4 separate regions of the Homo sapiens genome follow, and regions 2, 3 and 4 are each linked to region 1. The links come from fine-mapping of genetic effects on gene expression. A gene starts in region 1. Each other region holds a variant in brackets. All regions are shown on one strand. Distances are between the middles of the regions.

Region 1 (8,100 bases):
TGCATCTGGTGCCCCTGCTGACCCACCCTGGCCTGGCCCATGATGTACCTGGACTTTCAGCCCAGCTCTGATGCTACCCACTGCTTCTTTTCCAGCAGGGATGCTGATGGTTTTCTGCCTAGAGGGGAATTTTTTGGGTCCATCCCTCCCTGGTCTTCACAAGTAGCCTCCTGTGTCCCCATTATTCAAACTGACTAGTGGGGTATACCAGGAGCCAGGAGGGGGGTGTCTCTCCTTGGAGTCAGAGTAGACTTTTTTAAGGAGGGGGTGCTTCAATTTGCAATTGCAAAAATGTATATATACACACACATATATATACATAAACACACATATATACGTATATATACCCATATATACACATATATATACATACATATACATATATATTATATATATACATACATATACGTATTATATATATATACGGGTATATATGTATATATATGATGGAATACTACTCCGCCATACAAAGGAATGAATTAATGGCATTCCCAGAAACCTGGATGGGAATTGGAGAATATTATTCTAAGTGAAGTAACTCAGGAAAGGAAAACCAAACATCATATATTCTCACTCATAAGTGGGAGCTAAGCTATGAGGATGCAAAGGCAGAAAAATGACACAATGGACTTTGGGGACTCAGGGAACGGGTGGAAAGGGGGTGAAGGATAAAAGACTACAAATTGGGTTTAGTGTATCCCAAGTTACTGCTCGGGATATGGGTGCACCAAAATCTCACAAATCACCACTGAAGAACTTACTCATGTAACCAAATGCCAACTGTTCCCCAAAAACCTATGGAAATAAAAAATTTAAAAAATAAAAAACTGAGGGGATGCTTGAGCTGGGTCCTGAAGGGTAAGCAGGAATGCACCAGGTGGGTGCAGAGGGAAGACCTTGGTGGCAGCGGTCCAGGTCCCACCAACAGGGCGAAGACTGGTGGTGGGAAAGAGTGTCTGGAGGATGACCAAGGGGGCTGAAATGGGTTGGGGTGCAAGCGGGAGGTGGTCGCTTTTTGACACAGCTTGGTCTCTGAGAGTTCGCCTTGGGAGGCTTTTGAGGGGAGGGTAAAGGTGCTGGTGGTGGGGTTAGGTCAGATCTGATTTAGCCAGTCCTAGTACCCACACCCCTACTTACTAAACTTGCATGTTTCCAGGCCCCATCCAGACCCACTGAATTGAGCGTCTTGAGGGAAACTCAGAAATATGCCTGTTCACTGAGTGAAGGTGATTTGGGGGCTGCAGCCCTGTCCCCGCTAAAGCAGCACATGGGAGAGGTGGGAGCTGGGCCTATTCAGGAGCCCCTCTGGAGGTGGGAGAATAAGACCAGACCTTTAGCCCTGTAGGTACTGAGGCTCTCATGTTGGCAGGGCTGGAAAGTCCGATCTGTTGGTCTGTCACAGGAAGCAGTGGTAGCAATGGTGGTGGTGGGCACTGGAAGCAGGGCTTCTCCTGTTCAGAGAGAGAAAGCCACAGGGGCGCCGGCGGGAGGTGGGAGCAGATGGGGGGCCAGTTTCCCAGCAGGATTGATTCCAGGTCCCCTGCTGGGCTGTACAGGGAGCGGCCTTTAACTGCCCTGTTCCTGGGCCAGGAAGAAGGAAAAGGAGCCTGGGCTCTTTCTCTCCTAGCTCCTGCCCTGCCCCCTTCCCACTCAGTACCCGGAGAGTACCTGCCCCAGGCCCGTGGAGATGCTCGGCTCAGCTGGTTGGCGATGCCCATTCCCATCCCAAGGGTAGAAATGCACAAGCTTCCTCCATTTCACTAGCTGACCCTCCTTCCTCCACAAGGCAGATGGATTGGGGGTCCATACGTTCTCCCTATAGGTAGGGAAACTAAGGCACAGAGAAGGACTTGAAAAGCTGAAGTGGGGAGACCATGCCAGACCTTTGGAGCCCAGCTGTGCTTACAGATGAGGTCCTGAGTTCCAAGTTACTGCCCCCTCTCCCCTCCACACACACTCCTCAGACTTCCTGTTGGGGGCCCAGGCTAAGACCACTTGCCCACACCACTGATAACAGTGAGTTGATTGTGAGCCTCCCGTCCCCTCCAGGGAGGGCTGGAACCTGGCTGATCAGAGGGTTCCTGCTTTGGGAAACAAAATGGGCCAGATGAACTCAGGCCCTGGGAGCAGGACCGTTGCCCCCGTCCTGAGTAGGACTTCCTGGGAGTCCCTCACCCCCAGAACCCGTGGACCTGGCTACGGAGGTTAGTCATGCCTGGAAGTGCCAAGATGTGGACAGGTGGTGCTCAGAACCCCACCTACGTGAGGAGGCACTGAACTGGGTTCTGGCAGTTTGGCCAGAGGAGGATGCATGCTAACAAGGCCCCCAGCTTGCCTGGGGACTGAGTGACTGTGTGTGCGCTCTGTCCAGGGGCTTCTTTTTAGAGACGTTCCTGCACCATGTCTGCTGTTGAAAGGAGATAGGGCAATGCCTCCAAGCTTGTCTGACCTGCAGCCTACCGGCTGCATGTGGCCCAGGATGGCTTTGAATGCTGCCCAACACAAATTCATAAACTTTCTTAAAGCATGATGAGGTTTTTTTGTGTGTGTGGTTTTTTTGTTTGTTTGTTTGTTTTAGCTCATCAGCTATGGTTAGTGTGAGTATATTTTATGTGTGGCCTGACAATTCTTCTTCTTCCAGTGTGGCCCAGGGAAGCCAAAAGATTGGGCACCCCTGGCCTAACCCAAAGGAGGCTAAGGGTGTCCTCTTGGGCACCCTGGTTTTCCATCTTCCTGTGGGATTGGCCAGTATTCAGGGAAGAGGGGACCAGGGCAGCTGATAGCTCTGGACTCCTCAGACTGAGTTTGCTGGAGTAACACCCCTCCTGCCCCTCCCCCCTGGTCAGGGAAGGCGCCTGGCTTCCAGCTGTGAGACAGGCTCCGCAGGACTAGGGACCCTCCCCGCTGGCTGAGAGCGCTAGGGAGGGGGCTTCCCCTGTGAGGTGCAAAACCCGGCCTGGATTTCTGCCCAGACGGCCCCGCCCACTCCAGGGCCCCACCTTCCCCACTGTTCTGGAGGAAGATCCCCTAGCCGGCCTCAGGCACTTGCGGTGACTCACACCCCCCACCCCTAAGTCTGAATGTTGAGAGCCCCAGGCTAAGACCACTTGCCTCTGCCACTTTCCATGTGACTGAGGCAAGACCTCCTTGCCAAGGCCTCAGTTTCCCCCTCTGTACTTCAAAGGAGGCAGCTCAGGCAGGTGTCTTAATAATTTAAACGACGAATATTGCTAAAGAGATAAGGGGCGGGGAGAGAGAGAGATCACTGTGGGCCATGGTTAGGGAAGGGTGGAGGAGCTGGGTCCTGAAAGGGTGGACTTTGGTCGGGTGGAGAAAATAGCCAAGAAGGCAGTCCCTGCTGGCAGCACAGCAAAGAGAAGTGAGAATTAGGGGGAGCAGAGGTGAGGCTGGAGGGGACTTTGGTTGGGGCAAGATTATTTGGGGTCCAAATAACAAGGATGTTTAGACGTATTGCCATTGTGCTCTGGGGAGCCACGGAAAGCTCTTGAGCTGAGGAGTGACTTGGAGAAAGTTTTTCAGCCAATGCAATAGAGGGAGTTGGTACCTTTCCTTCTGCCACCCTGAGTTTCTGGTGCCTACGGTAGGGTAGGGATTGTTCTGCCCTGCCTTCAGTGCTTTGAGTGCTTGAAACAGACACCGTAATTTTAATTACATAAAAATGATACGTGTATCAGACGGGACAACCTTTAAAACGTAAAGAAGAGGCAAGTATCCTGCATCACAGGGGAGTCTTTCAACCTGGCTGGGCCAGGGCCTGCGGAGCAGTGAGGGTCGTTTCTCAGCCCAGCGAGCCTGGGGCAGGAACGGACCCTAATTGAAGGTGACCGTCCCCAAGCATGCGTCCTACCCCGGGCTCCGGAGAGCGCACAAGCAGGTGTGCACCGTCTACCCGCGCTGGCGGGATTGGGTGCCTGGTGCGCCCTCAGGTCGACGGTCGAACCCTCGGGGGCGGGGGTGGGAGCCAGAACCCTCGGGACGACCCGTCTGGGGTCCCGGGGAAACTCCGGGCCGCCTCGCCCCGCCGATTCCAGGCCGGGATTTCTCCCGCACTGACTTTCCGGGCCGGTGCCAGCCCGGCCTCCGGGTCCCCAGCCCCCGCCGCGGGGCCGGCTGCTCGGGGAGCGGGAGGGGGCAGGAGGCGGAGGAGGAGTTTGAGCGACTTTGTGGGGCAGCCAGGGCCTCGGCGGCCGCTCGGGCGAGCGCGGGAGAACGCGTGGGCGCCCGCCGGGCTGTCCGGAGCGGCCGATGGGGCCCGTGTGAGCGCGCCCAGGCCCGGCCCGGTGCCCGGCGGGCGGCAGCATGTCCGCGGGCGGCAGCGCCAGGAAGAGCACCGGGAGGTCCTCCTACTACTACCGGCTGCTGAGGCGGCCCCGGCTGCAGCGACAGAGGAGCCGCTCCCGCAGCCGGACCCGGCCTGCCAGGGGTAGGCGCCACCCCGACCCCTGACCCCTAGACCCTCCTAAGGCCACTAAGCCACCTGATGCCCTGGGATGCTAGGGACCGGGATCCTCCTTCCAGCCATTTGCCGGGGGTTTCCTCATCCGCCCCTTCCTGAGTCTGCCGGACCCCCCATTCCCCCAGCTTCTGCTTAGTCCTCCTCTCGCCGGGGGAAGCCGAGGCTCTAGGGTCTCCTCTTAAGCCAGGGACAGGGAGAGGGGAGCCTGGAATCTTTCTCCGCATCTCAGATCAGACCTCCTACCCCACTGTGCCTCAGTTTACTCAGCAGCCGGGCAATAAAGTAACCCAGGGTGGATCTGAGCTTTCCCACACCTTGCCTTCCCAGCCCAGGCCGCGGACTTCTTTCTTCCCTTTCCAGGAACTTAACGGGCTCCCCACCTCTTGGGTGCTAGGACAAGTGGGTGGACCTCAGGGAAGGAACCGTGACCCCTCGAGCGGGTGGGCGCCAGCTCCTTTGCAAAGTTTCTCTCCATCAAGCTCAGGAGGCAGGACGAGACGGAGGGGGAGGTGCGAGCAGCATTTTCTTTTTCCAGTAACAGGATCCTCGGCTGGAAATGCGTGTGATCCCGGGGGCTGCGTTTGGGCGGGTGGTGGCCGGGACTTCCTTCCCTGGCTGAGTAGGAGGGAGGGAAGCCCCTGGGAGGAGGAGGCCTTCAAAGGGGCTCTGGGGAGGCTGGAGTCCTAGGCAGAGGTTCAGGCCCACCGAGGGTGCCCGTGGGGTGGAAGGGAGGAGAAAGACGGCGCCTTAGCAGGGACCTGGGCCGAGTTGACACCATCAGGTTATCTTGAAAGTGGGAAGCCGGGCCCTGTGCCAACAAATGCCATGCAGGGAATCTGGTAGACCAAGAGGGGCCACATTCCCACCCTGCAGGCTGCCGTTGTGTGACCTGGGCTGAGCTGCCTCTGAACTTCAGTTTTCTTGTCGGTGTGAGGGTAAATGAAGCAGGCAGGTAGTGTTCGGTTGCTTCCACCAGAATGGGGAAGACTTTTCCCACAGTCAGGTCTGAGTAGCACTGTGCAGTCCAGGGCTTCCTCAGGAAGTAGTGAGTTCCCTGTGCACAGAAGGGTTCAAGCTGAGGCTAAGTGTGTGCACAGGTGTGTGCTGGTAGTTCAGTCCTCAAGGGTCTCTCAAAGCCTGCAATCCCCCCACTCCTGCCTTTCCTGAAGTCTTAGTAAGTACAGAATTAACAGTACTAAGTTACTTAGTAAGTACAGAATTAACAGTACTAAGCCTTTAGTACTCCTTGGAGGGAGTACTAAGCCTTTAGTACTCCTTGGAGGGAGTACTAAGCCTTTAGTACTCCTTGGAGGGAGTACTAAGCCTTTAGTACTCCTTGGAGGGAGTACTAAAGACCTGGGGAAGGCTTTATCTCAGTGGTTCAGGTTTTGGTTCTTCTATCTCTGTCCTTCTATTTAATTCTGTACTTGCTAAGACCTGGAGAAAGGCTTAGTACTGTTAATTCTGTACTTACTCCCTTCCCCTGGACTTGGTCTGGGAGACCGGGAATCTGGGCTCAAGCTTTGTGACTTTGGGCAAGTCATTTCCCCTTTCTGAGCTTAGTTTTCCTGGTTGTAAAATGGACCTGCCGTATGTGGAGGATTCAGTGAAGAAACTGAGAAATGGGAGCTTTGAAAATGCCCAGTACTGTTCAGACCACCCTGGGGCCTCTCCTTCTGCACCCACCTCACGTCACCTCACCCACCCGCCCCTCCTTTGCCTCAGAAATGCCCTGTGTGACCTTTTCCTCTTCTCACCTCAGCCCAGTTCCATCCCTGACTGTAATGGGAGTCTCGCTCCTGTTCAGCTGACCTCCTGCTCAGCTGACCAGGCAGGGGATAATCAATGTGTCAGGGGCTGTCACCTGAGCCCCAGCTCCCAGACCCCACATACACAGGATCACTGCTTGTGTCCCAGCTTGAAGGAGCTCACGGCCTGCAGAGCGGGGAGGAGACTGTCTCTGAACAGAAGTTATATCTGGGGAGATCAGGGAGAGCTTCACAGAGGAGGTGACATTTGGATGGGATCTCACAAAATGGATAGGGTTTCCCTTCGCAGAGGGAGTAATTGAGTCAGATCTGGGTTCAAGTCTCAGCTGTGCACACAACTATTCTACAGCCAGTTACCTCTCCAAGCCTCAGTGACCTTGTGTGGTCAATGGGGCTAGCAGTGACAGGGTCATGTGAGGGCCAGAAGCCAGTGCCTGGGACTAAGGCTGCAGCTGAGGGTGAGCTACTGTCTTCTCTCTGGACAGAATGAACAGACTGCGCAGTCAGGGAGAAGGAAAACGGCTTGGGTATTGAGAATAGAGTTCCTCCTGGGTTTGGGGAGGGGAGTGGATTGGGAAGGGGGCTGGGTGAGTGGGTGGGGAAGAGCAGGCAACAGTAGTTTGGATTTGATAAAGGGCCTTGAACTTTGGGAGGCCAAGGCAGGAGGAATCCTTGAGCCCAGGAGTTCAAGACCAGCCTGGGCAACATAGCAAGACCCTGTCTCAATATTGTTTTTGTTTGTTTGTTTGTTTGTTTTTTTAAAAAAAGAAGGCCTGGAGTGATGAGGAGTTAGTTACAGCTGCAGCCAGGGTGTAGGGTGGAGGCTGGAGGCACCCTGTCCTCCTCCTCCTTGGTGGGAGGCAGCTAGGGCAGCCATTGCCCTCCCTCCACTAAAGCCTCAGACGCCTGACTCTACCCCAGAGCCACAACCACCACCTGAGGGCAGGGCCCCACCCAGGGAGAAACTCAGGCTGAGGAAGCCACCCTGTGGCCTTTGAGCCAGTCCCTTCTGACCTTGAACTTCAGCCTCCCCATCCACATGGGGGCTTGGTCCCATGGTGTGGTAGCATCGGACCTCAGAGGAGTGGGTGGTGCCTAGCATCTCAGCCTGGATCAGACTCTTGCCCCCACACCCTTTCTGGCCTCTGGCACTAGCAGGGAAGGAAAATGACCAAGAACTCAGGCTGTGTATTTGTTCAGAAACAGAAAAATGCAAGGAAGAGTTGGTTGCTGCCAGGTTCTGCAGGTGGCCAGGCTGGGGGAAGGGAGCAGGGCTTTGTCCCTGGTAGGGCTGTGAGTGAGGGACAGTATCTGCAGTCTCCCTAGTTTGACCAATAAGGGACTTAGGTTCTTCCCTTTTCTGGGCTTCAGTTTCCCCATCTGAAGGATGGGCAGAGTGAGACCTGCTGTGGTGGGGGGTAGAGCACGAAGCTGGAGGGTAGCTGGAGGTGGGGTAGAAACAGTGACCTTCGGAGGGTGAGGGCCATTTGCATTTTCCCACTGTGTCCCTAACTCCACTTGAAGGCTGGGCATGTCCCATGGATTTGGGGGGATCCTTTCCCCAGAAGGGTATCATCAGCAAGGTGCCTCCCCACCTAGTCACACCAAAATCAAGAAAAGTTTTGTCTCTGACCCCTGTGTTTCCCCAGGGCTGCTAGGAGAAACAGAAATTTTCCTCTAGCCCTGGATAAAGTTCTGACCCATTCATTCAGCCAGTCAGCTCCTCTTAAGCACCTACTATGTGCTGGGCTTCAGCTTGGGTGCAGGGGCACATGGAGATGAATCACATGTGCTCCCAGCCCTTGCCAAGCCCCCAGTCTGTTGGGGAGGCCAGCTTGTTGGGGTGCACTAGGG
Region 2 (8,100 bases), 63 kb after region 1:
AGGTCAGAAGAACATAGAGGTGACTTCCATCACTACCCAGGAGGGTGAAGGCAAACAGGGTGATGATGATGGTGGCCAGGGACTCCCCCACCAGCCTCTGCTCAGGATCTGTGGGAAGATGGGTGAAGCTGGCGCTGAAATCCCCAGCCACCCCAGGCAGTACTACAGCAGACTCACCAAGGGAGTTGCCTATTGTGCTGCAGGCCACACTGCCCTGGTGTCACCACCTTCTGTGGACTGGATGTGACGTAGGGAAGTGGTAGTGCCAGGGCCAGATGTTCTGCCCGGAGCCCATCCAGCCTGCCTGAGGTGGTCTTGCTCAGTTGCCCTAGGATCATAAAGTCCACGAATTTGATGGTTGTTTATGAGGATAGTGAAAACCTATTCCAGAGAGTTTCAGAATTAAGGAAAAATGGAGCTGGCAGAGAACTTAGTCTTAGAGTCTGTACAAGCCAGGGGTGCACTTGAAAGGCCTTGTTGTCTTTCGTACCTCTGCTGCTTATTGTTCAGAGCACCCATAGGAGTGTTTTCCCGAACTGGGTTCCATGGAACACATTCTTAAAGATGTTAATGGGCGTTTGCGATGAGAGAATTCCATAGTCCAAACAGGACTGGGGAGCAGTCTGTCCAGAGTTTCTCAAACTCAGTGTCAGAGGTTCTTGGAGGTGAGACTTGATGTTTTACTCCAGTGGGGTGATTGTGTGCTCAAATACATTTTACATCCTCAAATTTTGCTTCCTCATTCTTGGGAAATCATTTGTGACCCAGGAGATGAAAGGCCCTGAGAGGTCCTGCAATGAAGAAGTCAGTTTTGCTTTGTTTAATCCAGGGTTTCCTGTCCCCCAACCCCAGGAGCAGCTGTTAACATCTGTGGAGCAGTTGTATTTTGCAGAACATTATTTGGTAAACATTCTTTTGAGGTGTTATGTCTCCTCAGAAGCATGTTTTGGAGGAAACTCTGGAAGTGTTCCCTGCCCTTAGTACCTGCAGGAGTAAGCCTTGAATGATGGCATTGCTGGCTCAGCAACAGGTAGTGGGTCATATGTATTTGAAAAAAGTCATCCTAGGTCCTCAATATCATTCCTCAAAGCAGCTACCAGCTCTCCTGTGTGTGGGATGGGGCCTGGCTCTGGTCAGAGAGCCCTCTGTGGGGAGGTGGTTTGTCTGGGACCAGCCTAGGCCTAGGGTGTAGGGGTTTATTCCCCTTTTTGCAGGCTGGGTGGCGTCCATGTACCTGGCAGCTTGGGCTCTGGGCCTCCCCATCCCCCTCTAGACTCCCTCTGCAGAAGGCAGTGGTCAGGCAGAGGCTGCCCACAGATTTGCATAATTGCACCGTCTCCTGAATAATTAATAAAGCTCTGTCCTTGCTGGGAGCAAAGTCTGCACCGTTATGGATGGGTTTGCCATGGATAGGTTTGCCGGAGCTCTTCCAGGGGAGCCGATGGTTCCTGGACTCCTCTGCTTTTCCTGGCATGGAGCCCCCAGAGAGAGGAGAGGGCACTGGGTTGGGGGCTGGCTCTGGTGTGTCCACATGGCTCCCATAGCATGATAAAGGGCAGGTGAGGGGTAGTGTGTGCTTTCTTCCAGGATCCACACATGGGTTTTCTAGCACACAGATGGTTTAGGATTCTTATTCTTCTTGCTTTCTGTGGTCCCACTAACCCTTTTTCTCTGAAGTGTGATCAGCTGTTGTGGGGCTTAGCCCTCTTTTCTGGCAGCCCAAAGGGAGCAATGCTTATGCAGCAGGTAAGAGCAATGAGGGCCAGTTTTCAGACAAGTAGGGGAGGGGGAGGTGTTTCTGCTTGGGGCCCTTCTTCAATCCCTCCCAGTTTCTGGGCTTGTTAAAGTTGGAGGTAGCCTGGGAGTGATTCCTATTTGAGATTTCTAAATCCCTTTTGATGGTGTTTCATTGACGTGAATTTTCCCTCTGACGCATGGCCTTGTCTCCCTTTCATGCTAGAAAGGAGAGTAAGGGGTGGGCCTGCCCCCAACATGTGGTTGACATTGGGGAAAGTCCTAGAGTCTCGCCACGCCATGAGTACTCTTGAAAGGCCTTGCTCCAAACCTTCTGTAGGAGTATTTCTTAAATGGGTTCTACTGAACATATTCTTACAGATGTTAATGGGTACTTGGGATGAGGGAATTCCACAGTCCAAACAGGTCCAGTGAACCAAGTCAGTCAGTTTCTTTAATGCATGGCTCCTTAGAGGCTTTAATGTGCCAGCGTGTGTCTGAGCCCCTGGGAGGGCGTACAGGATGCTCTGCTTCCCATCCACACCGGCACTCCAGAGTGTTGGCACATCTCCAGCAATGGGGAGCTCTTTCCACCTGGAGCGGCCCCTGCCCTTGGAGGACAGTGCCAACTCTTGTAAACTTCCCCCTTTGTGGAGCTTCCCCAGGCAGCATTTATGTGGCACCTTGTCATTCCCCACATGGCCCTCACACCAGCTAGGAAGGTGGCAGGGCAGGGATTATTCCATTTTATAGATAAGGTAACTGAGGCCCAGAGCGGGTAATTGTCTCACCCAGGGGCACATAGAGTTGATATTTAAACCCACGTCTGCCAGCTGGGCCTTCAGCTCTTTCCTCTTGGCCACCAAGAAACCATTTGCTCCCTGGATAGATGTCAGTATGTTGGCTGGGGTGGGGCCTTAGGACCTGTTGCTCTGACAGTGCCCTTCCCAGCTTGCTTGGAGTGTCTAGAGGGTGGAGGCAGGAGTGAGTGAAAGCCTTCCTTCAGGGTTTCCAAGCTGTGGGGCCTGGCTTTGGAGCCATTTGTAGACAGGGGCCTAAAACCGCCAGATGCCTGCTTATCACACCATTCCCGACTCTCACCCTTTTCCTTCTCCTGCCCTCTTGTTGTAGGGTGGGAATGTTTGAGGTGCCCCAGAAACTGGGTATGCACTCAACTTTGGCCAGTAGTGGTGGTGCAGGGGTGAAGGAGCAGGGCAGGGGGTTCCAGCTGGCTTGTCTTTCTCCAGGCCTTCCTGAGAGTTACTGGACAAGCTTGGTGGATGGCCAGGGGAGCCTGGGGTGAATTTGTTCACAGCAGCTGGGCTTAGAGGCTGCACCGGGGCTGAGATGTGACTTCAGGACTCAGGCCAACTGTTTTATATCTCAAAAATCTTGGGTTATACCATACACCATGAAAGGTACTGCATTGCCACACCTGACACTTCCATTCTGGTCCCAAAGCAAGCCACACGGGGGCTCTCTGATGAACAGAATCCTGCTCTGCTGACACATGGACCCAGATCCAGATCCGACGCCCTGACTTCCTCCATGATCTGGGACAAGTCACCTAATCTCTGAACCTCTGTCTCCTCATTTTTAAATGGGCACCATGATTGTGGTGCCTACCTCCCAGGGTTTTGAGGTCTACATGGGATCATGTTACATGGTAATTTGATCATATTCTGTCATCACACACATGTACTCACATTCTCACACACCATGCTTTTGCTTTTTTGTTTGAGATCCCACAACCTGCCAGCACATCCAACCCAGTCTTCCCAGGGTCCACCTCATCATATATATAGCAAGAGATGGCCCAAGACACATGAAGTGATGTTTGTGCTGACATTTCTCCCACTTAGAAAATCAATATTCTGTGGTCTGCCTAATTGCTCTGTTGCTGCTAAATGAGTCATTATGGAGGGAAAATAGCAAATGCATTGTGAGATTAATGGGAGAAAATGGTTGGCAAATGACTTTGGTTTGCTTCGGAAACTCTGAGAAGGTGTTACTACGTGAAATCTGCAGAGCCATGCAAGGCCGAGTCCTGAGCAGCAGGGAGACAGGCAGGCAGCTATTGGCGCTGTGAGCCTCCCTTTTAGGGCGGGGCACCGATTCAAATATTATAGAGGCTGGACTCAGGAGTTACTGAGTGATGAAGTCAGGAGCCAACAATGGGACAGGTGCTCTGACAACCTGGTCTCAAAGAAGAGGATACTCTTCAGTTAGAGCCAGTTACATGCCAGGCATGGTGCTAAGCTGAGGGATGTAATGGTGAGCAAAACCAGCCCCAGCTCCTCCCCTAGTGGA[G/A]GACACAGGCTGAAGTGCAATTGTCCTACAGGTGACTGTGTAATTGCAATTAAGGCATGTGTCCTGAAGGCAGTGAGAGCCCAGATCTGAAGGGTTTCATCTGGTGGGGGTGGTGGGGAGGGCCTCCCCGATGACAAAAGGAGTAAGCTGAGCTCTCAGGGAAGAACCTTCTGGGCAGTGGGAGAACTCGTGCAGTCCTGTTGGGTCTTATAGGAGGGGCTGCCACGGGACTTGTATGGCCTTAACCCTCCAGCCATCCTAAGAAGTGGATATTTCTCGTTTCACAAGCGAGGAAACCAGGACTGAAGGTGGTTAAGAGACTTGCCAGAGGTCATAGAACCCTTAAATGGCAGAGTCCAGATTTGAACATGGGGAACCCATGCCAAGGGGCATGCCCCGTTGCTCCAGGGAGCTGGCCTTGGCACTTGCTGCCCTGAGGGTGTCTCTTTAGCTAGGGTTAAGGACCTTGCTCCTGCAGGGCAGGGGGCTTCATGGTGGTTGCCTGAGAGTCTTTAGAGAGAGGGTTATAGGACTCTAGAAAGGGGGAACCCTCAACAGCCACAGCCAGGCCTCTTTGCTTTCTTGGGTCTTTGCTTCCTTTTAATGACAGCGTGACTTGGGTAGTTTTCTTTTTCTTTTTCTTTCTTTCTTTTTTTTTTTTTTGAGACAGAGTCTTTCTCGGTAGCCCAGGCTGGAGTGGAGTGCAGTGGCAGGATCTCGGCTCACTGCAAGCTCCGCCTCCCAGGTTCACACCATTCTTCTGCCTCAGCCTCCCGAGTAGCTGGGACTACAGGCACCTACCACCACACCCGGCTAATTTTTTTGTATTTTTAGTACAGACAGGGTTTCACTGTGTTAGCCAGGATGGTGTCGATCTCCTGACCTCGTGATCTGCCTGCCTCGGCCTCCCAAAGTGCTGGGATTACAGGCCTGAGCCACTGCACCCGGCCATGACTTGGGTAGTTTTCTGATGATCAAAATGCCAGGTCAACTAGTGACTCCTCTTTCAAAAGGCTCTGTAAATAACACACTTCTCTCCCCATGAAATGGGTTGGTTTATTCCCTGCCTCTAATCCCAGCTGGACTGTCATCAGGTAGGGCCTATCAGTTGTCTGCAGAGGTGGGTGGAGGTATGGTCACCTGAAGGTGCTTCTAAGGAAGGTGCTTGTGAGTTCTTGTAAACTTCCCAAGGTTTCAGGAGTGGCAGCAGCAGATAAGGAGAGTCCAGGCATTTCCTGTGGGCATTATGAAGGAGCACCAGAGGCATCCCACTTTGTCTTGGTGCCTGGTTGTAGCTGAGCATCATAGTGCCATGAGAACCTGGTAAAAAGATTCTGGAGCCCCACCCTGGGAGGGTCAGGGTCACAGGTCTAAGGGGGGCTCTGGAATCTGTATTCCTGACAAGCCCCAGGTGATTCTGAGACCCACTCAAGTGTTGAGATCCCCAGTTAGCAGCTCTGGATTCTTCCGTCTCTGAGAGGGTCACAGGCCTCCAAGGGATGGTGGTAGTGGAGTATACTTTTATCTTCCTGGGCTGGATGTAACACTGCCTGCTGCCAGCTCAGGAAGCCAGGCCACACTGTGCCCATAGGGCCACATGTAAGGCAGAGCCTGGTGCTCAGCTGAACCCCAGGTGAGGCAGGAACTTGGCCTGGGATGCTTTGCTACTGCTATTGTCCGGAAACTGAGTTTCATCCCAAACTTAGGTCTGACTGGCTGTGCCCTGTCCCTTGCGAAATATAAACTGCAGCCCTTCCTGGCGAGAGGCTAAGTGTTTATGTGGGCTGGTTGCAGAGCCCAGCTCTTTGTCCTGCTCAGGTTCCATTTCCAAAATAATTCTGCTTAGTTCTTCACATAAACAGCAGGGCCCTTAGAGACTGGCCCTGAGAGTATAGAGGGGATCCATCCCCGTCCCAGCACCCCAGTGTGCTGCCAGGAGACACCAGTGGGCATCCTGGGGTTGGTACCCAGTGTTCTGCTTTCTGCTCTTGCTCCTGCCTCCTTGGAGGCCAGGAGCCACATGCCTGAGGCCCAGGAATGTGATGGGGAAACAAGTTTCCCAGATTGGCCAAAGACCAAGATGGGAGCCATTGCACCAAGGTAGGCGTGGTAATTCAGTGCCACACGTTTCCCATGGTCAACCCTGCAGTCACTCTTCCCGCTAAGTCAAAGTGTCCACTTTGCTGTTGTCAGGTTATTTGGTGAATTTCTGTAGCCTCTAATGATGAGTAGTGAGTGGGAACTCTGTCTCCTTTGCTCCTAGCATCTACCAGGAAGACTGTTTCAGCGAAGGCAAGTCTCATACGGAGCTGGGCCTTGTGCACGCATGTGTCATAGCAAGCACTCATGAAGATGGGCCGGGGTCTCTTGTGAGCCTGGGGCAGCCCCGGGGGAATCTTGCCCTCAGAGAAGCACTTTTCACCATAGATTCACCCCTAGGTGATGCTATGCAGTCCTCATGGTAGGAATTACCAACTTCCACATCGGCTCAGGGGCCAGGATCTTCTAAGTGGTGGGACTTCGGGTCAAGCAGAATTCTGGACTCTGAGTGGCTTCCTAAGAGTTGGCCTGCTGCTTAGCCTGAATCTCAGGGCAGGTACAGACAGGATGGCGGTGCCCACAAGCCCTTTTTATCCAGCTAGCTAAAAGCCACTCATTGTACTAGCAGAAGCACGTTTCTACACATGAGAGGAAACACTGCATCCTTTTCGGTGCAGTTTTACAGAAAACTATTTAACGCGCTTGCTGTAGCTACCCCTGGCATGTGGATCCTGAGAATCCGCCCCTGGGCAGATTCACTCGGGTCACACACTTGTTTATCACACGGTGTGTAATTGACCTTAGTATGTGTGCATATGGACAGCATACCACGTAGCAGTGCCCTGGGCATTCTGACCTGCCCCTCCTGGCGTGTTTACTCCTCTCTACCCATAGTTCTGGCTGCCGTGCCTCACCCTGCCATGTGGCAACCACATGCCGGGCACTGAGAGGAGGCCCGGGTGAGAGTCTGGTCAGGGTCCTGCCTTCCTGGGAGCATTCTCCTTTGAGCACCACCTCCCTCTTCTTTCTCTCTTCCCCTCCCCCTCCAGTCCTGGACTTCCTGCTGTTCCTGGTCCAGGGGGAGGGCAGGTACCACACAGTGATGGGTGTCCTGCAAGCTGAGCCTGGGTTGTTGAAACTCCTGGCCCAGAAGCCTCTAGCCCCCAGCCAAGGTCCCTGTTTGGGCCGCGTTATGACAGTCTTGTTTCCGGCATGTCAGGTGTGACCATGCCTTCTGTCTCGATGGCTTTCCTTGCTGGTGGTCTCCCTGTGGGGCTGCTGTCCTTATGTGTCGAGGTTTCAGAATGGCCAGGCTCTTGGTGGGGAGGCCCTGGATGGACATGCTGGTGGCCCAGGAGAGAGCGACCCATCCTCAGTCCCTCTGCCTGTGAAGGCAGACTCTCCTGCCTGCCCTGGCAACAGCTCTGCGCCAGCCTGTCTGTGTGGCTGCCGGCAGCCGCGGCTCCTGACTGGCTGCCTTCTCCCAGCTCCCTCACGCCCTCCAAGGCTCACTCACTCACTCACTGGCTGCTCGCAGCAGCTCAGGCAGCGTTCAGGCAGATGGTGCAAGGGAGGCGTGGGCGGGGGTCCTCGGACTCTGCTTGCACACCCCCATGTGTGGGTGAGGTCACGCCCAAGGGATGTCATCAACATACGCTGGGATGGGCTTGGTGCCATTCAAGATCTATCTGCAGGGACAACAAAACCCGACTTCGAGGTCTTAACAAGTCCCTCGGGAGTCTCCAGACTCGAGTCCTTACACTGCATCACCCACTCCCCTGAGCCACCAGGCCCTGGTCTCCTCTCTTGACCCACAGGACACTGCAGGCAAATGCTGGGTTGAAATTCCAGCTCTGCCGCTTGTCAGCTGTGACTTTAGAGAACTTAGCTAACTCTGCAAAATGGGGGATAGTATCAGTTCATGGCATTGTCAAGAGGAATGAATGGGATTTGCAGCTAAATGCTTAGCAGCACCTGGCGAAGAGCAAGCGCAGGAGATGAGTTAACCGGGATTGT
Region 3 (8,100 bases), 92 kb before region 1:
TTTTTTTTTTTTTTAAGAGACAGAGTCACCCAGGCCTTAGAAGACAGTGGCACAATCATAGCTCACTGTAACCTCAAACTCCTGGGCTCAAGGGATCCTCCTGTACACACCACACCTGAGGCTAACTTTTTTATTTTTTGTACAGATGGGGTCTCACTATTTGCCTAGGCTGGTATTATTATTATTATTTGGAGATGGAGTCTCACTCTGTAACCCAGGCTAGAGTGCAATGGTGTGATCTCGGCTCACTGCAATCTCCGCCTCCCAGGTTCAAGAGATTCTCCTGCCTCAGCCTTCCAAGTAGCTGGGACTACAGGCACACATCACCACACCCGGCTAATTTTTGTATCTAGGCTGGTCTTGAACTCCTGGCCTCAAGCAATCTACCTACCTCAGCTTCCCAAAGCTCTGGGGTTACAGGCATGAACATACACACAGGGCCTGTTTTCACATTTTTAAATGGTTGGGGGGAAAAAATCAAAATAATACTGTACTGTTTTATGACACAAGAAAATGACAGGAAATTCAAATTTCAGTGTCAACAAATAAAGTTTTATTGGTACACAGCCATGCTCATTCATTGACATATTGTCTATGGCTGCTTTTAAGCTACAGTGGCCAGTTGAGCAGTCGCATCCGTGACTACATGGCCTGGAGCACCTAAAATACCACCTGGCCCTTTACAGAATAAGTTTGCCAACCCCGACATATAATATATTGCTTGGGGCCAAACAGTAGCTCTGTGGCCTGTCTGGCTTTTTTCTCTTGTGTCCACCTATCCTAAATGCCCTCTCTGTCACTGGGAAATTAGCTACCCTAAAGGATCCTTTCAAACCCTCCCCTCCACCAGGTAGGCTCACTTTGCTGATCCAGCCCCCTCCTGGCTGATGCCTCGGGTATCCCTCCCCACCCTCCCAATCCCCGTCTGAGTGGAGAGCCTCACGGGCAGTGACTGACTGATTCATCTCTGTGTCTCCAGCACTTGGCATAGTCCCTGGTGAAAGTTTGCTGAATTGCATAAACTGCTGTCATTGCCGGGTTGGTGAAATGCTTCCAAGCTTCTTGAGGTTTATCCTGACTGGCCACAAAACCTGAAAACTAGCCAAGAAGCATGGGGAAGGGTGGCTGGGGAGGAGGGTCAGGTGGAATGCAGAGAGCTGAGCTCATGTGGGGAGTTCTGATGACTTCAGGGGCTTCCCCGGGGCAGAATCACTCCCTGTGAGCACAGAGAATAAAACTAGGATGAGAGATTAGTTACTGAGTACAATGGATGTTGTTCGCCTGATGGATACCCCGTAAGTATCCCTGACTTGACCACTACACAATCTATGCATGTAACAAAATTGCACATGTACCTCATACATTTGTACAAATGGAAACAAAAAAGAAAAGCTAGGGGGTGTGGTGGCTCACGCCTGTAATCCCAGCACTTTGGGAAGCTGAGGCAGGTGGATCACTTGATGTCAGGAGTTCAAGACCAGCCTGGCCAACATGGTGAAACCCCGTCTCTACTAAAAATACAAAAATGAGCCAGGCGTGGTGGTGTATGCCTATAGTCCCAGATACTCAGGAGGCTGAGGCAGGAGAATCGCTTGAACCCAGGAGGTGGATGTTGAAGTGAGCCGAGGTTGTGCCACTGCACTCCAGCCTGGGCAACAGAGCAAGACTCTGTCTCAAAAAAAAAAAAAAAAAAAGGAAAAAGAAAAGAAAAAGAAAAGCTAGGACCAGGATTGCCTGGAGGTAGGGAGTTCCCCATTTGAGGAGGTAAGCAAGCGGAGTTTAGATCAAGGATGTCAGGAGATTGCTGCCCTGTTGGAGGGTTTACTGGTTGAGATCTCCAGTTGCTTCCAACACAGAGCTCAGGAAGCCTGGGGTTCTCTTGGATGATGGCCAGGCCCTTGTGCCTCACCAAGGCCAAGCTCTGGGGGCTGGGAAAGGGGACAGAGGGCCCTATTCCTGCCAGCTGCTGAAGATCCCACTCCATCCACACAAGCCTGTGTCTCATCCCTGCCTTGACCTCCTACAATTGTGTGCCTGCTACGGGAATCCAGGGAACAGCTTCCTGGAACACGAGGCAGAGCCGTGGGACCCAGCAGCCAACACATCTCAAGTCCAGCCCCACAGTTCATCATGAAACTGATGATTTCCAGGAACTTTGAGGACCCTAGACCATCATCTCCGTCCACTCAGCCCTGGAAATCCCCCAACTCCAGGCATTTATTTATAGCTTGCCTTCTTTCCTGGAAAGGTTTGAGGTTGTTTAATAATTCCACCTCACATTTGTGCAGCACTAGGAGGAGGCCACAGGGCATTGTGGTTGAGAGTCTGGGCCCTGGAATCAGCTGTGTGTTGGGGGAGGGAGTGCCAAGTTATTTAACTTCCCCAGCCGCACCACAGCGGAGGACTCAAATTTCTAACCCAGCCCCAAAGCGTGGTGCCTGTCACATCCTCCCTCTGTGCGGCTGATTAGCCACTTCCTCCTCTGAGCCTGGGTTTCCTTGGGACAGTTGGGATTCCCTGAGAGGACGTGGGAACTCACGAGGACCCTAGGCAAGCACACACATGGGGCAGCTGGCTGTCTGTGGCCCCTGCTTGCCCTGGGGAGCCGATGACAGGGCCGCCGGCAATGCACCCTCGTCCCCTGGGGCTGGCTCAGAATTCCTAAGGCGGTGCCAACCCTTGGTTCAAGGCCTTTAGATGAGTCAAGAAAGCCTCTGTACAACAAACCCCTGTGACATGAGTTTACCCATATAACAAATCTGCGCCTAAAATAAAAGTTTGCAAAAATAATAATAAAGCAGAGACCACCGCCTCCCTAAATGCGGGGGCTGGAGAAGGACAGTTGTGGGAGGGGCCCGGGATGTAAGGTGAGACCACCAGGGAGCAGACCAAAGCCTGGCTCAGACATTCCCTCTTTGAAGGCCCCTTCCCACCTCCACACCTCCCTGCCACCCCCACCCAGACATACTTCTGCCCTCCTTGGCTAAGAGGCACTGGGTGTTTACTTGGGGCGAATAATGACTTCCTGTCAGGCGGACTCAAGCCCCAGCTCTGCTGCTTCTCAGCCCCTTGAACGCCTCTCAGCTTTCCTATCTGTGAAATGGGGCTCAGAAAACCTTTTTAGAAGGTTGATATATGAGGTGCATGGAGAGTACCAGGCCTCTCTGAGTACAAGACCCTCTGGTCTCCCTCCTCCCATTCTGGCCCCCGGGTACCAGCCCTGAATGAGAAGTGGGGAGGACCCAGTCCAACCAGAAAAGCATTAAGATGCAGGGAGAGCCAGGCGCGGTGGCTCACGCCTGTAATCCCAGCACTTGGGAGGCCGAGGTGGGTGGATCACTTGAGGTCAGGAGTTTGAGACCAGCTTGGCCAACATGGTGAAACCTTGGCTCTACTGAAAACACAAAAATTAGCTGGGTATGGTGGCCTGCACCTGTAATCCCAGTTACTTGGGAGGCCGAGGCAGGAGAATCGCTTGAACCTGGGAGGTGAAGGTTGCAGTGAGCCGAGACTGTGCCACTGCACTCCAGCCTGGGTGACAGAGAAGGAACCCAGTACCTCAATAAGGGCTCCTGGATGGAGTGCATACAAGGCGAGAGGGAGTGGGGAAAAAAAAATAACAACTCAGCCAACGCTTAGTCATTCCACAGATACTTTTTTTTTTTCTTTTGAGCCAGGGT[C/T]TTGCTCTGTCACCCAGGCGGAAGTGCAATGGTGCAGTCATGGCTCACTGCAGCCTCAACACCCCAGGCTCAAGTGATCCTCCCACCTCAGCTTCCTGAGTAGCTGGATCTACAGGCGTGTACCACCAAGCCCGGCACATTTTTGTATTTTTTGTAGAGATGGGGTTTTGCCATATTGCCCAGGCTGGTCTTGAACTCCTGGGCTCAAGCGATCCACCTGCCTCAGCCTCCCAACGTGTTAGGGTTACAGGCATGAGCCACCACACCCGGCCAAATATTTTATTCAGTACATGTTTATTGGGGGCCCACTGTGCTGGGCACAGTTCTAGGTGCTGGGATACAGACTGGAGCTTCCATGAAAGTAGGGGCTGGAGAATGATACACAAATAAATATATAAATAATGTCAGGTGGGATCCGAAGGGCCAGGAAGAAAACTAAAGCCGGGACAGGGGCAGACAGAGCCATGGGAGAGGCAGGGATGCAGGGGTCATGATATCTTAGAGAGGGTAATCAGGGGAGCCTCTAAAGGAGGCAGCATATGGCCAGGACCTGAACACGGGGGAGGGGGCTCTCATCCCAAGCAGAAGAAATAGAGGGACCTGTAATCCCAGCATTTTGGGAGGTGGAGTTGAGCAGATCATCTGAGGTCAGGAGTTCCAGACCAGCCTGGCTAAAATGGTGAAACCCGTCTCTACTAAAAATATGAAAATTAGCCAGGCATGGCGGCACACACCTGTAATCCCAGCTACTCAGGAAGCTGAGGCAGGAGAATCACTTGAACTTGGGAGGCAGACGTTGCAGTGAGCTGAGGTCGGGCCACTGCACTCCAGCCTGGGTGACAGAGTAACACTCCATCTCAAAAAAAAAAAAAGAATAAGAAAAAAAGAAGAAATAGGGAAGCCCTGAGGTGAGATGCACCTGGCAGTGCAAAGAAAAACTGGGAGGCCCATGTGGTTGGGGGAGGGGGGAGAGGAAGAGGGAGAAAGGAAAAGGAGAGAAGGGAAAGGAGGAGAGAGGGAGGGAGACAAGGAGAGAGGGGAAAGAGATGGGAGGAGGGGGAGATGAGCTGGTGGGCAGATTTTGCAGGGCCTGGCAGGCTGTGCTATGGGCTATGGATTTTAGATTCACTGAGCACCTCCTCTGGTCCAACTTCTATTTTTTTTTTTTTTTTTTTTTTTTTTTGCGATGTAGTTTTGCTCTTGTTGGCCAGGCTGGAGTGCAATGGTGCGATCTCAGCTCACCGCAACCTCTGCCTCCCGGATTCAAGTGATTCTCCTGCCTCAGTCTCCTGAGTAGCTGGGATTACAGGCACCCGCCACCATGTCCGGCTAATTTTGTATTTTTAGTAGAGACAGGATTTCTCCACGTTGGTCGGGCTGGTCTCGAACTCCCGACCTCAGGTGATCCGCCACCTCGGCCTCCCAAAGTGCTGGGATTATAGGCATAAGCCACCTCTCCTGGCCCCAAGTTCCATTTTAAGTTCTACCTGAATTAACTCATTAGTTCTCCTAATGGCTCTCCAGGCATGGCCTATTTTTATCCTCGATTACAGATGAGGAAACAGAGGCACTAAGGAGTGAAATCACTTGCCCAGGGTCATCCAGCTGGAAAATGGGGAGCTGGGATTTGGACCCAGGCAGGCTGATATCAGATCCTGAGCTCCAAATCACTAAGCTCTGCTACCTGTCCTTGGGGTGAGAAACCCAGTCGGGAGGCACCGGAGCCAGAGCCGACGCCGGATTCCAGCCCACGTGGGTCTGGCTAAATGGCTAGGGTCCGTGTCCTGCAGACGAGTGGTGCTGGGTTGAGGAAAGTGCCCCCGCCTTAGGTCAGTCTCCACCCTGGCTCCGAATCTCAGGAAGAGTAAGACATTCTGAGCCCTCTATGGGTTCCATTTGGCCTTCAATAGCAGGATGTAGCTAGAAAATCAGTGGCTTACTCATTGGCTTACATCTGTAATCCCAGCACTCTGGGCAGATCCCTTGAGGCCAGGAGTTTGAGACCAGCCTGGCCAACATGGTGAGACCCCATCTCTACAAAAAATACAAAATTAGCCAGGTACAGATGCGTGTGCCTCTAATTCCAGCTACTTGGTAGGCTGAAGAATGAGAATTGCTGGAGCCTGGGAGGCGAAGCTTGCAGTGAGCTGAGATTGCGCCACTGCACTCCAGCCTAGGGCACAGAGCAACACTCTGTCTCAACAAAACAAAACAAAACAAAAATCAGAACTCACAGCAGGAAAATAACCTGAAAGCAAACACAGCCAGGCTGTCACACATTTGCATGCCTTGATACACAGTAGTGCCACATGCCCGTCCTCCTCCAGTCTGCCTGATGAACTCCTCTTCATCCCTCATAGTCCAACTGGGCTGGCCCCACCTCTGCAAAGGCTTTCTGGATCCGGCTGAGCAGATCACTCCTCTCTCATGCTGCTCCTTTACCCTAGACCTGTCTTCTTACAGCTTTTAGGCCCCTGGGTTTTGGTTTCAATTATTCCTTTGTGTTTGGCTCCCCCATCTCCACCCAGCCCAGGCCTTGGCAGGGGCAGAGGGGGTGAGTGGGGCAGATGCCACATCTTGCTGTGCCACCCTCACTGGCCACATCCTCCCCAACAGGGCAGCCAATGAACAAGCTGGCCACCAGGTGCTGCTGTCTCTCCCTGATGCCCACTGAAGGACCCTGGTCCACCCACTCCCTCCTGCTGACATCCCTCCACGCAGCCAGACTCGGGGGGCCAGCTGCCACCAGTGACTCCTCAGCTCCTTCCTTTACATGGAGTGACAGGTCATGTCTGGAACCTGGGAATTCCTGCTGCTGCTGGAACAGGATCATGCAGTGGGCTGGTGGGAGCTATGGCTCCCAGAGCTATGCCCTCTGTCCCCACCACTCCACTGAGCTCTGATCCCGCAGCCAGTAGTGACCTGCCGGACATCGCCACATGTCTGTCTACATTTCTCAAACTTATCGTCACCACAGCAGAGTTCCCTCTGCCCAGCCCTACCCCTCTCTACACAGCCTCTCCCAGCTCCATGGACCAATCCACTTGCTCAGGCCAAGAGCCTCAGAGTCTGCCTGGACATGTTTCTTTTCTCTTCCTCCACATCTGTCAGGCTGTGCGTGAGGTCCCCACATATATCTTTTTTTTCTTTTTCAAGACTGAGTCTCACTCTGTCACCCAAGCTGGAGTGCAATGATGTAATCTCAGCTCACTGCAACTTCCGCTTCCTGGGTTCAAGTGATTCTCCTGCCTCAGCCTCCCGAGTAGCTGGTATTGCAGATGCCCAGCATCACACCCAGCTAATTTTTGTATTTTCAGTAGAGACGAGGGTTCAACATGTTGGCCAGGCTGGTCTTGAACTCCTGACCTCACGTGATCCGCCTACCTCGGCCTCCCAAAGTGCTGGGATTACAAGTGTGAGCCACCGTGCCCGGCCCCCACATGTATCCTGAATCTGTTTACTTTTCCCCACCTTTGCTACCAACACCCTGGTTGAGGTCTTTCTCCTTAGGGACCACAGCAGTGACCCACTGGCTTCCTGCATCCTCTTTGGCCACTCCTCCGGCCACCTTCCCCTTGTAGCCAGGGAACCTCTCATGTCACTCTCCTGCTTCAACCTGCAATGGCTCCCACATCCCCTGGCCCACAAGGTCCTTGGAGAGGTGGCCTCTGTGACCTTCCCCTCTTCTCCTGGACTACTCTTCCAGCGGTTCCCAGCCCTGGCCATGCTGGCCATCGTTCCTACCCTCCTGCTCAGCCAGCTCACTCTCACCCCGGCTTTGCAGCAGCTCTGCCCACTCCTGGATGCTCGGCCCCTGAACTCTGCATGGCTGGCTTCTGTTTGCCTGGCAGGTTGCTGCTTGGATATCACCTGCTCTGTTGTGCAGCCCCCATGTAATTCTCTGAATAGCACTCCTTTCTACCAGACAGCGTGCGTGTCTCCCCCCAGCTAGGGTGGAAATTCAAAGGAGCAGGGACACCCACCATCCCAGGCCTTCTACAGGGCCGGGCACAAAATCAGACTCAACAACAGCTGGTGGAATGAATAAAAGAACAGAGGGGGCTTGCACGCGCTTTGCCGCCACACTGGGAATTTTGCAAACACAGGCGCCTTTTGACCCAGCAAGTTGATGTCTAGGGTTTTCTCCTAAGGAGATCAGTAGACAGATGCCCACAGAAGTACAGTCAAGATAGTCCTTGCAGCGTTGCTTGTCATCATGACTACTGGCAGCAACCTAGGTGTCCATCAATAGGGGATTGGCTCAAAGCAGGTGTGACACAGCCAAAGGGTGGAATGTTACGCAGCCACTAAATAGATGGGTCTCTTATCATAAAGGGAGGGAAGCAGAGCCTAGTGCCCGATGTTCAATACGATTAATCCCTGGAGGGTAGGAGCTCTGGTTGTACTTAAACATGTCTAA
Region 4 (8,100 bases), 86 kb after region 1:
AGAAGATAAGACAGGAGCATCCTGAGCTCTGGGGAGAAGACGGCCTGCAGTGTGTGTTTCTCCATCACTCACGTATGGAATCCCTTAGGCCCTGAGAACCAGAGATGAACAGACCCCAAGGAAGGCCTGGCAGGGCAGGCAGCAGTAGCCAGGAGAAGGGAGTCAGACCAGGAATTCAGGCAGAGAAAGGGAGAGATTGTGCACTTTCCTGTGCCCGGGGCCACTGGGAAGGCTTCCCTCAGGTGGGGGCAGTTGAGCTGGGCCTTGAAAGGTGAATGAAAATTAGAAATGGGGGCAGGAGGGGAGCCTCGTGGAAGCAAGTGTGTGACTGTGAGAAAGGCGGGGCATGCACTGGGAAGAGTAAAAAAGGAGGCGGGCTTTGTGACTGTTCCCTGTGATAAGCTCCAGGTATAAAGGTGAGGAGTGTGCAGGGACAGGTAGGACCTACTGATGGGCGAGGCCCAAGGCTCTGGACTTGTTCTGTGGCCACAGGAGATGCTGAAACCAGGAGTGACTGGATCAGGGCAGCTTCTGAAATTCCCCCAGCTACACGTGGCCAAGAATGGTCACTGTGTACTCTGTACTTTTATGTGTTACTAAAGATGTTGCTGGGCCGGGCGCGGTGGCTCACGCCTGTAATCCCAGCACTTTGGGAGGCCGAGGCGGGTGGATCACGAGGTCAGGAGATCGAGACCATCCTGGCTAACAAGGTGAAACCCCGTCTCTACTAAAAATACAAAAAATTAGCCGGGCGCGGTGGCGGGCGCCTGTAGTCCCAGCTACTCGGGAGGCTGAGGCAGGAGAATGGCGTGAACCCAGGAAGCGGAGCTTGCAGTGAGCCGAGATTGCGCCATTGCAGTCCGCAGTCCGGCCTGGGCAACAGAGCGAGACTCCGTCTCAAAAAAAAAAAAAAAAAAGATGTTGCTGAAAGGAGCCTGCAAGCGGTTATGCAGACTTCTGAGCAGGGGCTAGGAAGGAGGGCACAGAGGAAGCAACAGCAGACAGCTGGTGAGGGTGGGAGACCCACTGGAGATGGACATATTCTGACCCTCAGATGCAGGCTCATTTCTTGTTAGCTCGTGACTCCTTACTATGAGAGCTGTCATGCAAAGGAAAAGGCCCTGTTATGGGGCCCTGTTTTCTTATAACAAGATATTATAACAGTGGGGATGACTCAACAAGGGGATGCTTCTTGCCTGAGGGAAATCTAGGAAGGCTTCCAGGAGGAAGGACTATTCAGATTGAGGAGGGAAATGAGGGGGCTAGTAAAAGGTGCAAAAACAGTTGTCTAGGGGTGAGGCACACTTTCAGATGTAGTTGGGTCAACTTGAGCAAATGACTTAGCTATTCCAGACTTGATTTCATCTATAAAGTGGTCACAGTATCTGCCTTGCCTGTTTGTTGCCATGATCATGAAATCAGTGGGAGCAGACCTGGCTTGGAGCCTGCACCCTGGAGGGAGGTGGTGCTCAGAGGATGCACTCTGCTTTCGCCTTCCTTGTTGGTTTGGCTGCTCTGGAGCCAAAGGGGGCTTCTCTGGCCCCAGGACCTCTCTGAGACTCTATCTTCACCTCTCCCCTGCTAGGAAATTTTATTAAGACATTGGATAAACAGATGACAGCTCTGAGGGAAAACTTCTCAGAAGGAAGGGGACAGGACACTAAGTGCTCTTCTGGCTGGGAGCCTTTTAGGCAGTAGGGGGAGCTGGGTAGCTCTTGGGGCTTTGGTGGTGTGGACTGATGCAAATGTGGGCAGACGGGGTGGTGTTGGATCGCCTGGCCTGTGTGCACGGCAGAGCTGAGCCTGGAGCCTAGGGCCCAGCAGGGGATGGAATGAGTCAGGGACTTTCCAGGTTGGGGGCTGCTGCTGGGGACACAGTAAAACCTCTTCACCAGTCCTGCAATAACCCCAGACAGTATCCTGCCTGCCTGTACACAGTAGGTGCCTGACACAGTCTGCAGCTTAGTAGGAGCTCAGTAGTTGTTTGCTAAAACAGTGGCGCAGGCTGCAACTGCCAAGGACTGACCTGGGGTCTGTGATGCCTTAGGGTGGAGGATGCGAGGAGCTGGGCAGGACCTAGGTGGGACTCCAGGGTGTGGCTCTTGTTCTCCCACTGGCTTCTGTTCATATTTACATCGGGAGGCTGTGCAGCCTCGGGTTCCTGGCCTCAGCTGGATTAGCACCTCTTGCTGGTGGCTGTAAGGGAAGGAGGTGTGACGGTATGATACCCTGCATGTGGTAGAGACTCAGTAAGTGGATACCATTGCGGTGGCTTCTCTGGTGGGATGGGAAAAAGGGTGACCCCAGGCAAAAATACCTGGTTGGCTGGGTGTGCCTTTCCCCTAGGGGTTTTTGTTTCCGTGTTTAAATGACCCAAGGATGAATCTCCAGGCCAGCAGGTGGGGCAGGGGTTTGTCTGCCCCCAGGCTTCTGGGCGCAATCGGGAACCTGGGCAGCTCACACAGCTCACCAGCCTGTCTCCTCCTTCCCTGCACCCGACCTTTCCCTTCTGTCCTGCCGGACTAGCCGGGTGCTTTCCAGAAGAGAAAACCCGGGACTGCTGCCTGGGAACCCAGTGCCCTTCTCAGCTTAGGCTGTCTAGACCCAAGTCGGGGTGGGGAGTCGGGTTAGGGGATCATGGTAGACAAACCCCTGGCCTTGTCTGGACCTCAGTTGTGTTCACTTGTTAAAATGTTGGAATGGAAATGTGGGGAAGGGAGAGCGTTTGCCTTGGTTGGGTCTCTGGGCTGCGCTGGTCTAAGCCCGACGAACCCGGGGTGGGGCCAGCGGGCCAAACTGGAATGCGCCGCGAGAGCCGGGCCGCGGGCAAGTGAGGGGCTGGCGGGGCCGGTGGGGACCCAGACTCGCACGAAGGTGGGGAAGGAGTTGCAAGGCAGAGACCCCCGAACCCCTGCTCCAGGGCCTGCGCGTCCCGCCCGCCCGGCGTGCCGAAGCGCAGCGGCGGGTCGCTAGCGGGAAGTGGCTGCAGCTGGAGGCAGCTGGCCGCGGAATGTCACCCGCTGCCGGGCCTGGGAAGGGCTGGGCCTACTGCTGTGGGGTGGGGGGCGGGTGGGAGGGCCCGGAGGGCTGGGGCTGGGGCGGGCCGCTTCCGGGCTGGAGAGGGTTTGGGGCGTGGCGCAGCCCGACGTTAGTCCGGAATGCTCTGGGAGCAGCGCTCGGGGGAGGTTACCTTGGCGCGCCCCCAAATCTTTTGGTTCCCCCGCTCCTGCCTTCCACTGCTCTGGCTGACCTGGCTCAGACCAGCTTGAAAAATGCATTCATTCATTCAGTACATCTGTCGAGTGTCTACTCTGTGCCAGGCTCTGGTTCGAGGTGTGCTGGGCTTACCGGGGCGTGCAGGTCCCTGTTCTCGTGGACCGGACATTTTCATGATAGGTAAAAGACAGAAACAAACAAGATGACTTCAGGGTAGTTCTGTGGAGAAAATGAAGCAGGGTGATAACTTGGGAGGTGGGAGTTGCCCCTTTAGCTAGAGAGATCAGGGAAGGCCTCTTCCTGGGACGGGACTTTGGGTCTGAGACCGGAATGAGGAGGAACCAGCCTTGCCCACGGAATGGCAAATACAAAGGCCCAGAGGCGGGGCTTGGGGCAGGATATGACCTTGGGCGGAGTCAGTATGTTAGGGGAGGAGCCTGTAGGGACGGCTCCTCCCTCTTTCTTGACCCAGACCTCTGTGCTCTGGCCTGCACCCTGCCCAGAGGCCCCAGAGGGCGACTTGCCATGGCTGGAAGCGATAGTTTGCTTTCAGGAGTGTTTCTCGTCTTCTTGGACCTGGAGGTTGTGCCATGTGGTTACCTGCATGGAAGACGGTAATTTTCCACTTGTTTCCTGAAGGACACGGAAACCTTTAGATGTTGTCATCACTGTGTTTATTTAAGTCATTTTTGAAATTTCAGCTTGGAAGACACAGATTCAGCACGTGCCTTTCGGGAAGGGGAAGCCCTCCTAGGCTCACCTCTTAGATGCCGGCCCGGCCGAGAGGCCCCCTAATCTGTCCAGAAGAGCTGCCTGGGTGAGCACCACCCTTGGGAATGGGCCTCTGTGGCCTTGGACTTCTTAGTGACAACTTCGGCAAGATCCTGGGCCGGGCCGGAGGGGCTGCTCACTGGAGACCTGGCCATCTTCGGAAGCCAGATCTGGCTCCAGAGCCTCGGGGGTTGCAAGTGCCCAGAACCAGGTCAGCAGAGAGGCCTGC[G/A]CTCCCACCACAAAGGTCTGTTTGAAGTCCTGTGGGAGGGAGGACAGACACCACAAGGAAACTTCCTCCCCGGTGGGTGGGTCTCCAGCCAGGTATGGGGTCAGACAGGCTTTGGTCGGGCTGGAGGGTGAGGAGCTGTTTCTCCAATGAGGCCTGGTCCCAGGACTGAGTCCTCAGTGGGCAGGGCTTGTTGGTGTGCTGTGAAAGTGCAAGGCTTGGGGGACTGAATGGGGGACTCCCTTGGACATGGGAGGAAGAGTGAAGGTGGGGGCTGGGGTTGCTAAACTGGTTCCTCCTCCAGGGAAGCAAGCCCTGCCCTCCTGGAGCTTCCAACCTGGAGGTGGGGAGGTGGGCTGGGGGGAAGCTTTAGGGCACAGCTCAGAGAAGGCCAAGCAGGCAAGGTTGTGGGGCACCTGGAAGGTGGGTGTCCAGCGGCCTGGCTGCTGACCTAGGCTCAGGGAACCAGCATTTGGTGGGTGAGCTGTGAGGAACGGGCCTTGACCCTAGGCTGCAGGGCTAATGAGGGCCTTTAGCCAGAGGCTCCCAGCACAGGTGAGGGGGAAACTGCCGGTGCCCCTGTGCCCTCGCGCTCTCCCAGCCCTGCCTCTCTGAGACAGATTTAATAATCCATGTCTGTCTCTCTCTCTCTCAGTTAGTATTGCAGGAGGGAAGCTTTACTTCTAAAACTTTTATTGATCCAGACACTAATAAAAGTAAAGGGTTTTTTTTTCTTCTTTCCTGCTAGAGCAAAGAACATCAGACATCAGAGCCCTAAAACACAAATGTGTTTTCCTCCTCCCTAGATCTGGGAGGGAGTTGTGGGTTGGCCTTGTTCAGATCTAGCCTCTTCAAGAAGCCTCCCTAACTTCTCAGGCCTGCAGTCATCCACCTGTTCCAGAGCAGTTAAACGAAACTGCCACATGTGCCTCTGTCTGACCCCAGAAGGCTGGGCTGTCACAGAAGCTTTCCTTCCCACCTGAGGTCCCCAGGGTTAGGGAGAGACGCCATGGGAGGCATTCAAGACCTGGCTCTTGATTTCTTGTGTCTCTCAGGGTTTGGGGTTTGGTTCTTTGGCTGCTCTGGTCTTTGTTTTTGCATCTTGATTTCATCAGGACTTACTGAGCTCTTATACTGTGTCAGACCCTCTCTTAAGACACAGAAATACAACACGTAGAGCTTGGCCACACACAGCTTACCTTGTGATGGGAGAGGCAGATAAGAAATAAGCAGAGAAACAAAGTGATTCTGCTTTGGGAAACATAGTGAAGTTCCCCTACTGAAATGTGAGTCAGGGAATTTCTGTCTGCTTTGTTCAGCACCTGTGTTCCCAGTGCCTAAATAGTGCTTGGCACATAGTTTGCACTTAAATATTTGCTAGCTGCATGAGCAAGATGCTATGAAGGAAACAAGCCAAGTGTTCCACTAGGGAGTAATGGGGGCAGGGCAGGACCTGTTGTAGATGGAGCAGTCAGGGAAGGATTGAGTTGCAGAAGATGCCAGAAGCCTGCCAGTTTGCTGTTAGAGTGTGCTGGAGCAAGAACTCCTAGCCTAGGGAGCAGCAAGTACAAAGTCCTTGAGCAGGAAACAGAGACTTTGGTGTGTGTGGTGGGGGGCGTTGGGTGTTGCTGGATGAGGTCAGAGAGTAGGTAGGTCATGACTGCCAATGTCTTTCACCTGGGTAGCAGTTCAGATTTATTCAGTGCAGTGGGGAGTAATTGAAGGCTTTTAAGGTGAGGAGTTCAGTAATCTGATTTGCATTTCTGAAGGGTCCCTCTGACTCCCCTGGTAGGGGTAAGGGGAAGCCCAGTGGTTGGGGAGGCTGCCCGGACAGCAGGCTGCCTGGGGAAGATGGAGAGGAGTAAACAGGTATGAGGGATTTCAGAGGGGGTAGCAGCAGGATTTGTGTTGGATTGGATTCCAAAGGCCAGGGAAAGGAAGGGCTCCTGGCTTTGCTACTGAGGCTCCACGCTGGACATTTCAGACGTGAAGCTCCGAGAGGTGTCCCAGAGGCGCTGTCAGGCAAGCATGGAGACACATGGGTCCGGAGCTCAGAGGAGGATAGGGCTGGGGATGCACTTAGGAGTCGTGAGCATGCTGGAGGTATTTAGAGCTATGGGAGTGGAAAGAATCACCAAAGGAAAGTGTTGTGCTAAGGAAGTGTCTCCGAAACAGCCCTGAGGAGCTCCAGCACTGGGAGGAAAGGAGGTGAGGTGCTAGCAGCCTGTGAGAACAGAGGAAAGCTGGAGCAGGGTGGCCTGGGTTCACGGGGTAGTAAGGCACAGAAACTGGTTGACTTTGGCAACATGAAGGCCTTTGGTGTCCTCAAGGAGACCCAGTGGGGTCGGAACAGACAGGTGTGTTGAGTAGGAAAAGGAGGTGAGAAGGTGGCGGGGACAGCAGTGAGCAAAGAAGTGCGTGAGGACCCAGCTGGCCCAGGATGTTGAGGAGGGGAGGGCCAGGGAGGGGCCTGAATGTTCTCTGTCCACAGCGTAGGTTTACCAGCAGCAGCTGACCCAGTGGATCTCAGCCTGGAGATTCTGATTCAGGAGCGCCGATAGGCCCCCCACAGTGATCTTTCCCAGCTCTCTGAGCCCTCTCCACCCACTCTCTGGAAGGCTTGCTCACTGTGCCCTGTCACGTTTTTGGACTGAATGCTGAGTCTGTTGACCCTGTGTTCCCCCCGTCAGCCCCTTTCCTTACACCAGTCTCTCTGGGTCCACGGCCCCTAAATAAGAGTATCCTGGAGCCTGGCTTACCTCAAGTGTCTTTCCCAGAGCAGAGCTAGACTTCCTTTACACCAAGGGTATTTCTCTGGAAGGCTCCTTTATGTGTTTGGCTTCTGGAGAAGTTTGAGATGTTTTACACAATATTTTGGTGGCCAGGAGCTCTAACCCTCACCCCCAACAACCCTGCCCCAAGACTTTTTGCTGGCTCTGGGGAGGGTTCAGAATGCATCGGCTTGAGGGTGCAGGGTTGGCATACACAGCTGGAGATAACATAATGTCTGCTAGACGCCTGGTGGGTTTCAGTGTCTGTTGAATGAATGGCACTCAGATATTTGAGTTTGGGGTTCCCAGTTGCTTTGTTAAATGCTTTTCCTGGTTAACCAGTGTTTTTACATCTGTTATCTGCAGGGGATAGTGTATTACCTCATTTTATACATGAGGAAACTGAGACTCAGGAAAGTAAAAGGATTTGTCCAGGGTTCCACAGTTGCTAAATGACACGACCAGAATTGGAGCCTGGGCCTGCAAAACCCCCAAATTGGGCCTCTTCTTACTGACTAATCCTGGGGGTGAGGTAGTAAGGGTGGAGGTTAAGGCACCCAGGTCTCCTACTACCTCTCAAGAATAGTGGCCAGATGTTCTGCCAGGGCTCCAAGGCATTCCTTCTGCCTCCCACCCACCTGTTTCCTCTGATGCTCGACACCCCCTCCTCTCCCCACATGCGCACCAGATGCATTCGGCTCCAGGAAGATAGGATGAGGCAAGCCTTGAACCTTGTCAAACCTTGGGGATGCTTGCGGCAAAGCCTGTAGCTTTTGGGGAGGCTGTTTCTGCAACAGGCGTGTAGGGTGGCCCTATGGCTGATGCAGAACTCCCCATAGGTAAGGTGAGCTCAGCCGGATCACATGCCATGACCACACGTGAGCATGGAAGACAAACCCAGAGAGGTCTGGAGGCAGGGCCCCTCCCGGAGAGGCAAAGCCACTTATGCTGCCTCCTGACAGCCTGTGTGGCTTTAGGCTCTCGCTTCCCTCCTGCTCTGCCCCTCCTACTCACCCAGCAGACTTGCTTAGTCTGGGCTTGGGTAGCCGAGACAGGTTGTTTTCAGGCCTCAAAGGATTTGGGCCACAGCCCAGCCTTTCTCAGTGTTTCTCACCT

What was found. PIP is the estimated chance that this variant, and not a neighbour inherited with it, causes the effect.
Region 2: its variant is fine-mapped to the expression of DAB2IP in whole blood (INTERVAL, PIP above 0.99).
Region 3: its variant is fine-mapped to the expression of DAB2IP in whole blood (TOPMed, PIP above 0.99).
Region 4: its variant is fine-mapped to the expression of DAB2IP in whole blood (TOPMed, PIP 0.99).

Annotation. Positions count from the first base shown.
Region 1 is chr9:121,647,456-121,655,555 of GRCh38, forward strand. DAB2IP (DAB2 interacting protein) reads left to right here and starts at 4,179. Exons shown (of 16, transcript NM_001395010.1): 1 at 4,179-4,444. The coding sequence starts at 4,321. RefSeq lists enhancers at 1,921-2,756, 7,215-7,714.
Region 2 is chr9:121,710,659-121,718,758 of GRCh38, forward strand. All of the region lies in intron 3 of DAB2IP (DAB2 interacting protein), which reads left to right. Among named protein-coding and RNA genes, the nearest start is that of DAB2IP, 63 kb to the left of the region's middle. RefSeq lists an enhancer at 7,460-8,057. The variant G/A (reference allele first, on the strand shown) is at 4,045.
Region 3 is chr9:121,555,711-121,563,810 of GRCh38, forward strand. The region is part of intron 1 of LOC107987016 (a long non-coding RNA gene); the gene reads right to left. Among named protein-coding and RNA genes, the nearest start is that of GGTA1, 60 kb to the left of the region's middle. RefSeq lists an enhancer at 2,320-2,614. The variant C/T (reference allele first, on the strand shown) is at 3,681.
Region 4 is chr9:121,733,485-121,741,584 of GRCh38, forward strand. All of the region lies in intron 3 of DAB2IP (DAB2 interacting protein), which reads left to right. It overlaps LOC105376257 (a long non-coding RNA gene), which reads right to left and starts at 3,566. Exons shown (of 3, transcript XR_930314.4): 1 at 3,349-3,566; 2 at 2,027-2,196. RefSeq lists an enhancer at 4,385-5,161. The variant G/A (reference allele first, on the strand shown) is at 4,217.